Linked DNA regions of Homo sapiens: region 1 is linked to region 2. The links come from fine-mapping of genetic effects on gene expression. A gene starts in region 2. The other region holds a variant in brackets. All regions are shown on one strand. Distances are between the middles of the regions.

Region 1 (5,308 bases), 49 kb after region 2:
TACTCATTTATTTAAAAAATTTTGTTTAGACACAGGGTGTCGCTCTGTTGCCCAGTACGGTGGCCTGATCATAACTCACTGCAGCCTCGACCTCCTGGGCTCAAGCCATCCTCCCAAGTAGCTGGGACTACAGGCTTGTACCACCAAACCTGGCTAATTTTTTCAATTTTTTCTGGTGGAGACAAGGTGTTCCTATGTTGTTCAGGCTTCTCTTTCTTTCCTTTTTTTTTTTTTTTTTTTTTTTTTTTGAGACGGAGTCTTGCTCTGTTACCCAGGCTGGAGTGCAGTGGTGCTAATCATCATGCTCACTGAACCTCCGCCTCCAGAGTTCAAGCGATTCTCCTGCCTCAGCCTCCTGAGTAGCTGGGATTACAGGTGCGTGCCACCACACCCAGCTAATTTTTGTATTTTTAGTAGAGACAGGTCGCCATGTTGCTCAGCCTGGTCTCCAACTCCTGACCTCGTGATCCACCCGCCTCAGCCTCCCAAAGTGCTGGGATAACAGGCGTGAGCCACTGTGCCGGGCGCCAAGCTTCTGTTAAACTCCTGGCCTCACACAATTCTCTCGCTTTGGCCTCCCCAAGTGTTGGGATTACAGGCATGAACCATGGCGCCCTGCCTACTCATTTATTATTTACAATACTCCCGGCCGGGCATGGTGGCTCACGCCTGTAATCCCAGCACTTTGGGAGGCTGAGGTGGGTGGATCATGAGGTCAGGAGATCGAGACCATCCTGGCTAACATGGTGAAACCCCGTCTCTACTAAATGTACAAAAAATTAGCTGGGCGTGATGGCGGGCACCTGTAGTCCCAGCTACTTGGGAGGCTGAGGCAGGAGAATGGTGTGAACCCAGGAGACGGAGCTTGCAGTGAGCCGAGATCGCGCCACTGCACTCCAGCCTGGGCGACAGAGCGAGACTCCGTCTCACAAAAAAAAACAAAAAAAAACCAATACTCTCAAGAGTTACTAGTTGAAGCTAGTAACTGAGTTGACTGGACTACAAATAGGGGAGTATGGTTTTACAGTATGTACTCAAACCTCAGTTTGAGATCCTCAGTTGTCCTACTTAGCCAACTCGTATGGTTTATATCACAATATTGTAAACAAAGAAATCTAGCATTGCCATAATTTTTACCTAAACATTTGCTGAGTCTGCTACATTTGAAGATTCCTAGAAAAATAATACTTTACATTTGCATTATACTTTACAGTTTACAAAGTGCTACCACATTATCTCATTTAATCTTCAAAACCATCCTGTGAGATAAGCCATTCAGATGTTATCTCTGCCTCACAAATAGACCAAATTTAGATGAAATAGATCACCTAAGGTCACACAATTAAACGAAGCACTGCACTTCAGTAAGGCCATCTAGCAAGGCTAGGCTAAATGCCCTGTTGAACACATAAAACTAGCAGCTAGCCAAAAACCTACAGGGTAACATCCCTCCAGCCTGTATAAGGAAAGGACACAGAGGTCTCTTAAGATGACTCCTCCCTACAATTTGTCACTGGTAAATAAGAAAGTGACTGGTAATGATTTTTCTCAGAAAAGACCTTGAAAGGTATGGCTCTGTTAAAAAAAAAAAAACAATGATTTTTAATTGGTTTCTGGAATATGAAGGTATTCATTGTTTATTAAACCTGCAGACAGAAACAAAGCTGGGTTTTTAATGCCCCAGCAGTCTTTTGAGTCTTTTAAATTGACAAGTGCTACATAGTGTAGAATTTTTTAAGTTAAACATCTAGCAAGCAGACTAGAGAGAGAACTACTGAGAAAATGTCAATTTTAAGAAACCAGGCCAGGCGCGGTGGCTCACGCCTATAATCCCAGCACTCTGGGAGGCTGAGGAGGGCAGAATCACCTAAGGTCAGGAGTTCAAGAAAAACCTGGCCAACGTGGCGAAACCTCGTCTCTACTAAAAATACAAAAAAAATAGGCTGGTCACGGTGGCATGCACCTGTAGTCCCAGTTACTCGAGAGATTAAGGCATGAGAATTGCTTGAACTCAGGCGGCAGACATTGGCAGTGAGCCAAAATCACGCCACTGCACTCCAGCCTGGGTGACACAGCGAGACTCTGTCTCAATAAAAAACAAAACAAAACAAAAAAAACCCAAAACTTGTTTACAGTGTCCCAAGGAATCCAGGAACAGTGTAAATCTGAATCAAGAGTAATTAATTCATAGCTCAATTTTAAGAGAAAGAGTACTGTTGTGATTTTCCTCACCCACCCTCCACCCCTGCACTGAGGAGCTAGAAAATGTAAAGAAGCAACAATGCTACTTGACTGCAGAAGGCAGTAACATAACAGACACAAGCTTAGGCATTTCATTTTGGTTTGAAATAGTTTGTACTGTGAAAGGGTACGAGAAGGCTTCAAGAAGCCAGTATGGCCACAGCTCTTGGCTGCCACCATAAACATGAACTATGAAGTGCTATGCTAGGAACTTCCACGATTCTGATTTCTTGCCAGTTTGAAAAACCAAATTATAAATGTGAGGCCATGGTAACACCTACA[G/A]ACCTAAGAAACTAAACCAGTAGGGTTTCTAGCTAAATGCCAAGGTGAGGCATTTAAAATGTTGGTCAGGGCTGGGCATGATGGCTCACACCTGTAATCCCAGCACTTTGGGAGGCTGAGGCAGGCAAATTACCTGAGATCAGGAGTTTGAGACCAGCCTGGCCAACATGGTGAAACCCTGTCTCTACTAAAAAATACAAAAATTAGCTGGGCGTGGTCGTGCACATCTGTAATCACAGCTACTTGGGAGCCTGAGGCAGGAGAATCACTTGACTTCAACCCAGAAGGCGGAGGCTGCCTTGAGCCTAGATCACACCACTGCACTCCAGCCTGGGCTATAGAGTGAGACTTCGTCTCAAAAAAAAGAAAACGAAAAAGAAAAAAACAATAAATAAACAAAAATGGCCGGGCGCGGTGGCTCACGCCTGTAATTCCAGCACTTTGGGAGGCAGAGGTGGGCAGATCACAAGGTCAGGAGATCAAGACCATCCTGGCTAACATGGTGAAACCCCATCTCTACTAAAAATACAAAAAATTAGCTGGGCGTGGTGGCGGGTGCCTGTAGTCCCAGCTACTCAGGAGGCTGAGGCAGGAGAATCAGTTGAACCTGGGAAGCAGAGGTTGCAGTGAGCCCAGATCGCACCATTGCACTCTAGCCTGGGCAACAGAGTAAGACGCCATCTCAAAAAAAAAAAAAGAAAAGAATTCAGAGGAAAGCGAACTCTGAGTCAAGAACCTTCACCTCTATGAGAATCAGAATCACCTATGGAGTTTAGAAATACAGATGCCTGCCTGGGTGTGATAGCTCACGCCTGTAATCCCACCACTTTGGGAGGCGAGGTGGGTGGATCACGAGGTCAGGAGTTGAGATCGGCCTGGCCAACATGGTGAAACCCCAGTCTCTACTAAAAATACAAAAATTAGCTGGGCGTGGTGGTGTGCACCTGTAATCCCAGCTACTCAGGAGGCTGAGGCAGGAGAATAGCTTGAACCCGGGAGGCGGAGGTTGCAGTAAGCCAAGATCATGCCATTGCACTCCAGCCTGGGCAACAGAGTGAGACTCCATCTCAAAAAAAATTTAAAAAAAGGCTGGGCGCAGTGGCTCATGCCTGTAACCCCAACACTTTGGGAGGTCAAGGCAGGCAGATCACTAGGTCATGAGATCGAGACCTTCCTGGCCAACATGGCAAAACCCTGTCTCTAGTAAAAACACAAAAATTGGCCGGGCATAGTGGCACACGCATGTAGTCCTAGCTACTTGGGAGGCTGAGGCAGGAGAATCACTTGAACCGGGGAATCAGAGGTTGCAGTGAGCTGAGATTGTACCACTGCACTCCAGAGCCTGGCAACAGAGCGAGACTCAGTCTCAAAAAAAAAAAAAAAAAAGAAAACAGAAAAAAGAAGAAATACAGATGCCTAGACCCCACTCCACAGCGAATACATGAGGAAGTGGTGTTTTTAAAGCAGTTAATTTTTTCTAATTAAAATCATATATTAACATTCAATTACAAAAATATATAACGTGGCCAGGCGCAGTGGCTCACGCCTGTAATCCCAGAACTTTGGAAGGCCAAGGCGGGCGGATCACAAGGTCAGGAGTTTGAGACCAGCCTGGCCAACATAGTGAAACCCCCATCTCTACTAAAAATACAAAAAATTACCTGGGCGTGGTGGCAGGCGCCTGTAATCCTAGCTACTTGGGAGGCAGAGGCAGAAGAATTGCTACAACCTGGGAGGTGGAGGTTACAGTGTGCCAAGATCGCGCCACTGCACTCCAGCCTGGGAGACAGTGTGAGCCTCCGTCTGAAAAAAAAAAAAAATTTATTTTTCTTGTTGCCAGGTGCGGTGGCTCACGCCTATAATCCCAGCACTTTGGGAGGTCGAGGTGGGTGGATCACGAGGTCAGGAGTTCGAGACCAGCCTGACCAACATGGTGAAACCCCATCTCTACTAAAAATACAAAAATTAGCCGGGCGTGGTGGCGCATGCCTGTAATCCCAGCTATTCAGGAGGCTGAGGCAGGAAAATCGCTTGAACCCGGGAGGCGGATGTTGCAGTGAGCCAAGATCACGCCACTGCACTCCAGCCTGGGCGACAAAGCGAGACTCCATCTCAAAATAAATAAATAAATAAATAAAAATTTCTTACTTTTGATTTTTTTAAAAAAATACTTAAAAATATGGACTGCTTCATGAATTTGTGTGTCGTCTTTGCATAGGGGCCATGCTAATCTTCTCTGTATCGTTCCAATTTTAGTACATGTGCTGCTTAAGCAAGCACCAGTTTACCATTTTATACAATGCAATGTATCTTTGACATTATTCCATAAAGATCTCCATCCCTAACAGCTGCCATAGTATTCCATTGTATGGTTTCCTTTATTATAATGAAGAATGCTGTTTTGACATTGGCAGCGAGCCAAAATCACACCACTGCACTCCAGCCTGGGCGACACAGCAAGACTGTCTCAATAAAACACAAAACAAAACAAAAAACCCCAAAACTTGTTTATAGTATCCCAAGGAATCCAGGAACAGCATAAATCTGAATCAAGAGTAATTAATTCATAGCTCAATTTTAAAAGCTGGCATCTGCATCTTTTTTTTTTTTTTTTGAGACAGAGTCTCACTCAGTCGCCCAGGCTGGAGTGCAGTGGTGTGATCTCGGCTCACTGAAAGCTCCACCTCCCAGGTTCACGCCATTCTCCTGCCTCAGCCTCCCCAGTAGCTGGGACTACATGTGCCTGCCACCACGCCCGGCTAATTTTTTTGTATTTTTAGTAGAG
Region 2 (5,371 bases):
AAACCAGGAGTCCTTCTTAAACAATAATAATGATAATAACAACAGCTACTTTATTATCCCCATTACACGGATGGGGAAACCGAGGCATCAAGAAGTCAGGTAATGGCCTGGCATGGTGGCTCATGCCTGTAATCTCAGCACTTTGGGAGGCCGAGGCGGGTGGATCACCTGAGGTCAGGCGTTCCAGACCAGCTTTGCCAACATGGTGAAACCCCATCTCTACTAATTATACAAAATAAATTAGCTGGGCATGGTGGCGGGTGCCTGTAATCCCAGCTACTTGGGAGGGTGAGGCAGGAGAATCGCTTGAACCCGGGAGGCGGAGGTTGCAGTGAGCTGAGATCGCGCCACTGAACTTCAGCGTGGGCAGCAGAGGGAGACTCCGTCTCAAAAAAAAAAGAAGTCAGGTAACTTCCCCAACATCTCACAGTTGTGAGGCCAAAGCTGGGTTTGACCACTAAGGACGGTCTGACTGCAGACAGGGTTATAGTGAAGATTAAATATCTAAGAAACAATTCCTCACACATATCCCATAACTAAATTAATGTTTTTTGTTTGGGAATGGTGAGCCTCTCTCTCTGACTCAGTTTCTTAATCTGTAGGGAGGAAAAGCCTTTGGCCTTGCTGATCCACCTCTGACCATCTGCTGGGGCAAGGTGTGGTCAGCTCAGTTTTCAATTTTCTGGATGTGGATTTTGCCACTTAATACTCAATCCGCAGGCAGATTAGCCATCTCCCTAGTGGCCGCTGCTTATTTGAATTTCATAAAAACAAAAAACTTTCAGTTCCAAATAAACAAACAGAAAATCTATTTTTTGGGATGGGGTCTCACTCTATAACCCAGATTGGAGTGCAGTAGCTCGATCATGGCTCACTGCAGCCTCAACCTCTCGGGCTCAGGCAATCCTCCCACTTCAGCCTCCCGAGTAGGTGGGACTACAGGCACACACCACCACGCCCGGCTAATTTTCGTTTTTTTGTTTTTTGTTTTTGTTTTGTTTTGTTTTTTGTAGAGATGGGGTGTGCCATGTTGCCCAGGCTGGTCTGGCACTCCTGGGCTCAAGCAGTCCACCCGCCTCGGCCTCCCAAAGTACTGGGATTACAGGCATCAGCCACTGCGCCTGGCCTTACAACACATTTCTTTTCTTTTTCTTTTCTTTTTTTTTTTTTTTTTGAGACAGAGTTTCGCTCTTGTTGCCCAGGCTGGAGTGCAATGGTGTGATCTCGGCTCACTGCAACCTCTGCCTCCCAGGTTCAAGCAATTCTCCTGCCTCAGCCTCTCGAGTAGCTGGGATTACAGGCGCCCACCACCATGCCTGGCTAATTCTTTGTATTTTTAGTAGAGACAGGGTTTCACCATGTTGTCCAGGCTGGTTTCGAACTCCTGACCTCAAGTGATCTGCCCGCCTTGGCCTCCCAAAGTGCTGGGATTACAGGCATGAGCCATCACACCTGGCCTTATAATGCATTTCATAGCTAATGCAGATGCTATAGCTCCCCTACAATTAATTGTGTTGACAGCAGAAATTTATTTTTGGATTATTTTAGTTTGGTTCGCTCAGGCCATGTTTGCTAGGATAGATAACAGCTAATTGAATGGGGGTACAGTGAAAACCACCTTGAGCTTCATGTCAAAAAACCCGAGTTTGCCTGTGAAACCTGTGAAATGGGAGAAGTGAAAAAATTAAATAAGTAAATAAATAAAATTTGAGTTTGGATCTGTTAGGATATTAATACTTGTGACCTCAGGCAACTCACTTAGCTTCTCTACCCCTCATTTTCTTCATCTACGAAATTAAAGAGTTGGATTATACAGTTTCTAAAATCCCATCTGGTTCTAAATCCTTAGACTCCTTAGACTAAATCGTTAGTGTTTACCAAGCTGTAGAACAAAAGTGGAGGTTTAGAGACAAACCCCAAAGAACAAAAGAACTTGTGTGGGGGTTTGGGGACTAAGACTCCTGGGTCCCAGGCTCAACACTCCACTGACCCATTAGGCAGAACCTTCCCATGCCCAGGTCCAACTGGCCAGTAGCAGGATGATAAGGAAACATTTCAGGGAACATGAGTAGAAATAGAGGAGACCCCTCATTTCAGGGAGCAGCACCTTGACAAGGCAGGAGGATGAGAAGGACCTCTGGAGGGGTCTAAGCTGAGCTGCCCTGAGTCACAGAGATCACAGTGGAGTTTCTCCTGAGACAGGAGTGTCAGCTGAGTGGGAACTGTGTCCCTCATGGGTGGGGTCAGAGGTTACCTTGGCCAGCAGCCGGCGCCCGTCATTATCTAGGATGAAAACAGCCTTGATGGTGTAGAGGGAAGGTTCCTGCAACTGACACCGGAGAGGAGAGTTCCGTTTGGCCCCTGACTCGAGGTGGACACCCTGTGTCTATGGGATCTGCTGGCCCTAGGATACATCCTCAGGCCCCAGCAACCCCAGTCCTCAAGGTCCACAGCTGGTTCTGCCCAGCCCTGTGCCACATGGGCCAACCCAGGTGCCCACTCCACTCCCAGGCAGATGTTCCACTGCAGGCCCCGAGTGGGCGCTGTGCCCGTTGGGTGCAGAAGGTCCTTCCGGGCCCAAGTTCTGTCATGCACTGACTGCTCCAGAGCCCGAGTCGGAGTGTATCACAGAACCTGGGCCGGGGGGGACAGCGGGCCGAGCCTCCTTCTTCCAGCTGATCCCTGGCCGGGCTGGACCTGCGCTATCAGCGCGCCCCCAGGCCCTGGCCCGGGTAGACTCCAGAAGCATGCCCATCACCCACCGGTGATGGGAGCCGAGTCTGGGACGGACAGGCCACTCCTTACCCTCCCCGCGGAATCGCAACTCACCCGCCACCCCCACTCCAAACGGACCCAGAACTTCAGCCCCGCGCCGACGGACTCAGGACAGGCCTCCTCTCCGGTCGGCGCTGGGACGAACTTTTCCTCCCGGGTCCTGGGGCCAGTCAGGGGTGACACAAAGTTCCCAGCCGCCGGGCGCGCGAGTTCTGAGTTGGCTGCTCCCCCTAACCCTGCTCTGTCCCTGCCCAGCTCCCGCCGCCCGGGATCCCCGCGCCCGCCCGCTCCGTACCCGCAGCCCCGAGGGCTCCCCGGCTCGAGCAGGCGGCGCCGGGCCCCCGGCCTGGGCCGCCGCGGCCCCCTCCCCCGGGTGCGGACGTGGCCAGGCCTCGGGCCGCTGCATTCCGCTCGCCGCCTCGCACTGACAGCGCCGCCCGCCGCCTGCCCGCCGCCGCCGCCCCGCCTCCGCGCCGCCCCGCGGCCCCCTCTCGCGCGTGGCCTCCCTTTCCTCGGGGCCCCGTCCTCTTGCTCGTTCTCCCCCATCTCCCCTCCCGCCCTCACCCCACCTCTCCTTCCCCCACTTCTCCTCTCCCTCTCTCCTCCTTGGCTCCTTCCCGAGTCCCTTACATCCCCGAACTCTGCATCCTCAGGGTGCCCCAAGACCAGCCCTCGTCCTGCTTCCTGCCTGCTCTCCGGCCTGTGGCTTTGGTGTGCGCCAGTGTCTATAGGCTGTCCTGGGGCCAGCAGCAAACACAAGCAAAGCCCACTTTTGTCTGTTGACCTCTGGTAGGTACCATGAGGACAAATACGTCAGGTCACCCTTTAGATCTCAGGGACAGGGTCTATAAGCAAGAGCAAATGAGGACAGTTCTGGGGACACCCCTCTGTGAAGAGGCTTTCTCATTCCTCTCTCACTACTTGCAGAAGGCAACCATGGGCCCGGAGACACCTCCCCAGGCTCTCCTAAGTCACAGATATGGCACCATCAGAAGCAAGACAGACGCCCAGCAGCACAAATGCTCCACCAATGACATCGGGCTTTGCAGCATGTTTTGGTTTCTTTGGTCTAAGTCTAACTAAGACAAGCTCTCATTTCAGGGTACACTGGCAAGTGGGAAATTCACATCCCAGTGATATGTTAGTGCTACGTATGCATTTACCGGTAAAAACACTGTGCGTGTATTTTACATTTGACACCTTCACATCCATTATCTAATATAGCCCACACCTGTAAGATAGGCATAATGGACCCTCATTTTAAGCAAAGAGAGACTCAGAGGTTGTGTGACCTTTTCAAGACTATACAGCTAGTTGACTGGGGATAGAACCCAGATTTTTGACTCAAAATTTCTTCCCTATTCTTCTCTTCAAGCCCTCTTATGTTGTGGACCACAGTCACTTACCCTAGATGGTTACAGAATGGGGTTTTCCTCACTGAATGCATCAAGTCTTCTTATCTTCAAGCCTCTGCTGAAATATAATTACCAAAAGGTCCTCCTGACAGCCACCATATCTGACTTGATAGGTCTCTCCTGTCACATTCTCTCAGTTCCTATTTCTTTCTTTCATTGCACTTTTTTCAATCTCTAAATATTATTTTTACTAATATTGCTTGTTTGAGACACGGTCTCACTCTGTTGCCCAGGCTGGAGTGCAGTGACTCGATCTGGGCTCACTGCAGCCTCAACCTCCTGGGCTCAGGCAATCCTCCCATCTCAGTCTCCCGAGTAGCTGGGACCACTGGTGCATGCAACCACTCCCAGGTAATTTTTTATTTTTTTATTTTTTTTATTTTTGTAGAAACAAGGTCTCAAGTCTGGGCTCAATGGCTCACATCTGTAATCCCAGCACTTTGGGAGGCTGAGGTGGGCAGAAGGCTTGAGCCCAGGAGTTCCAGACCAGCCTGGGCAACATGGTAAGATCTAGTCTCTACTAAAACTACAAAGAAATTAGCCAGGTAGGGTGGTGTGACCTGTAGTCCCAGCTACTCAGAAGGCTGAGGTGGGAGAATCACCCGAGTCTGGGGGTTCAAGGCTGCAGAGCCATGATCATGCCACTGTGCTCCAGCCTGGGCAATGGGAGTGAGAATCTGTTTCAAAAAAAAAAAAAAGAAGAAGAAGAAGAAGAGAAAAAGAAAGGAAGAGGAGGAGGAGGGGGAGGAGGGTGATCATGATCAAGGTCTCACTATGTTGCCCAGGCTGGTCTTGAACGCCTAGGCTCAAGTGATCCTCCCACCTCAGCCTCCCAAAGTGTTGGGATACAGGCGTGAACCACCATTCCCAGCCTTTACTAGTTTGTTTATAAGTGTTCCTTCTCCCCGCCCAGACTTTGAGCCCTGCAAGAACCAATGAATGTGACTTTTTGTTTGTTTGTTTTTTTGTTTTGAGACAGGGTCTTGCTCTATCACCCAGGCTGGAGTACAGTGGTGTGATCATAGTTCACCGCAGCCTCAAATTCCCAGTGTCGGCCGGGCACGGTGGCTCACGCCTGTAATTCCAGCTCTTTGGAAGGCCGAGACAGGCGGATCACGAGGTCAGGAGTTTGAGACCAGCCTGGCCAACATGGTGAAACCCCATCTCTACTAAAAATACAA

The links. PIP is the estimated chance that this variant, and not a neighbour inherited with it, causes the effect.
Region 1: its variant is the best candidate, but not a certain one, in a credible set for the expression of COPZ2 in blood mononuclear cells (TOPMed, PIP 0.71).

What each region holds. Positions count from the first base shown.
Region 1 is chr17:48,083,982-48,089,289 of GRCh38, forward strand. The region is part of intron 1 of CBX1 (chromobox 1); the gene reads right to left. It also overlaps the pseudogene RNU6-1201P. Among named protein-coding and RNA genes, the nearest start is that of CBX1, 15 kb to the right of the region's middle. The variant G/A (reference allele first, on the strand shown) is at 2,524.
Region 2 is chr17:48,034,597-48,039,967 of GRCh38, forward strand. COPZ2 (coat protein complex I subunit zeta 2) reads right to left here and starts at 3,201. Exons shown (of 9, transcript NM_016429.4): 1 at 3,071-3,201; 2 at 2,255-2,329. The coding sequence starts at 3,181. MIR152 (microRNA 152) reads right to left here and starts at 2,651; the gene lies at 2,565-2,651. RefSeq lists an enhancer at 4,318-4,367.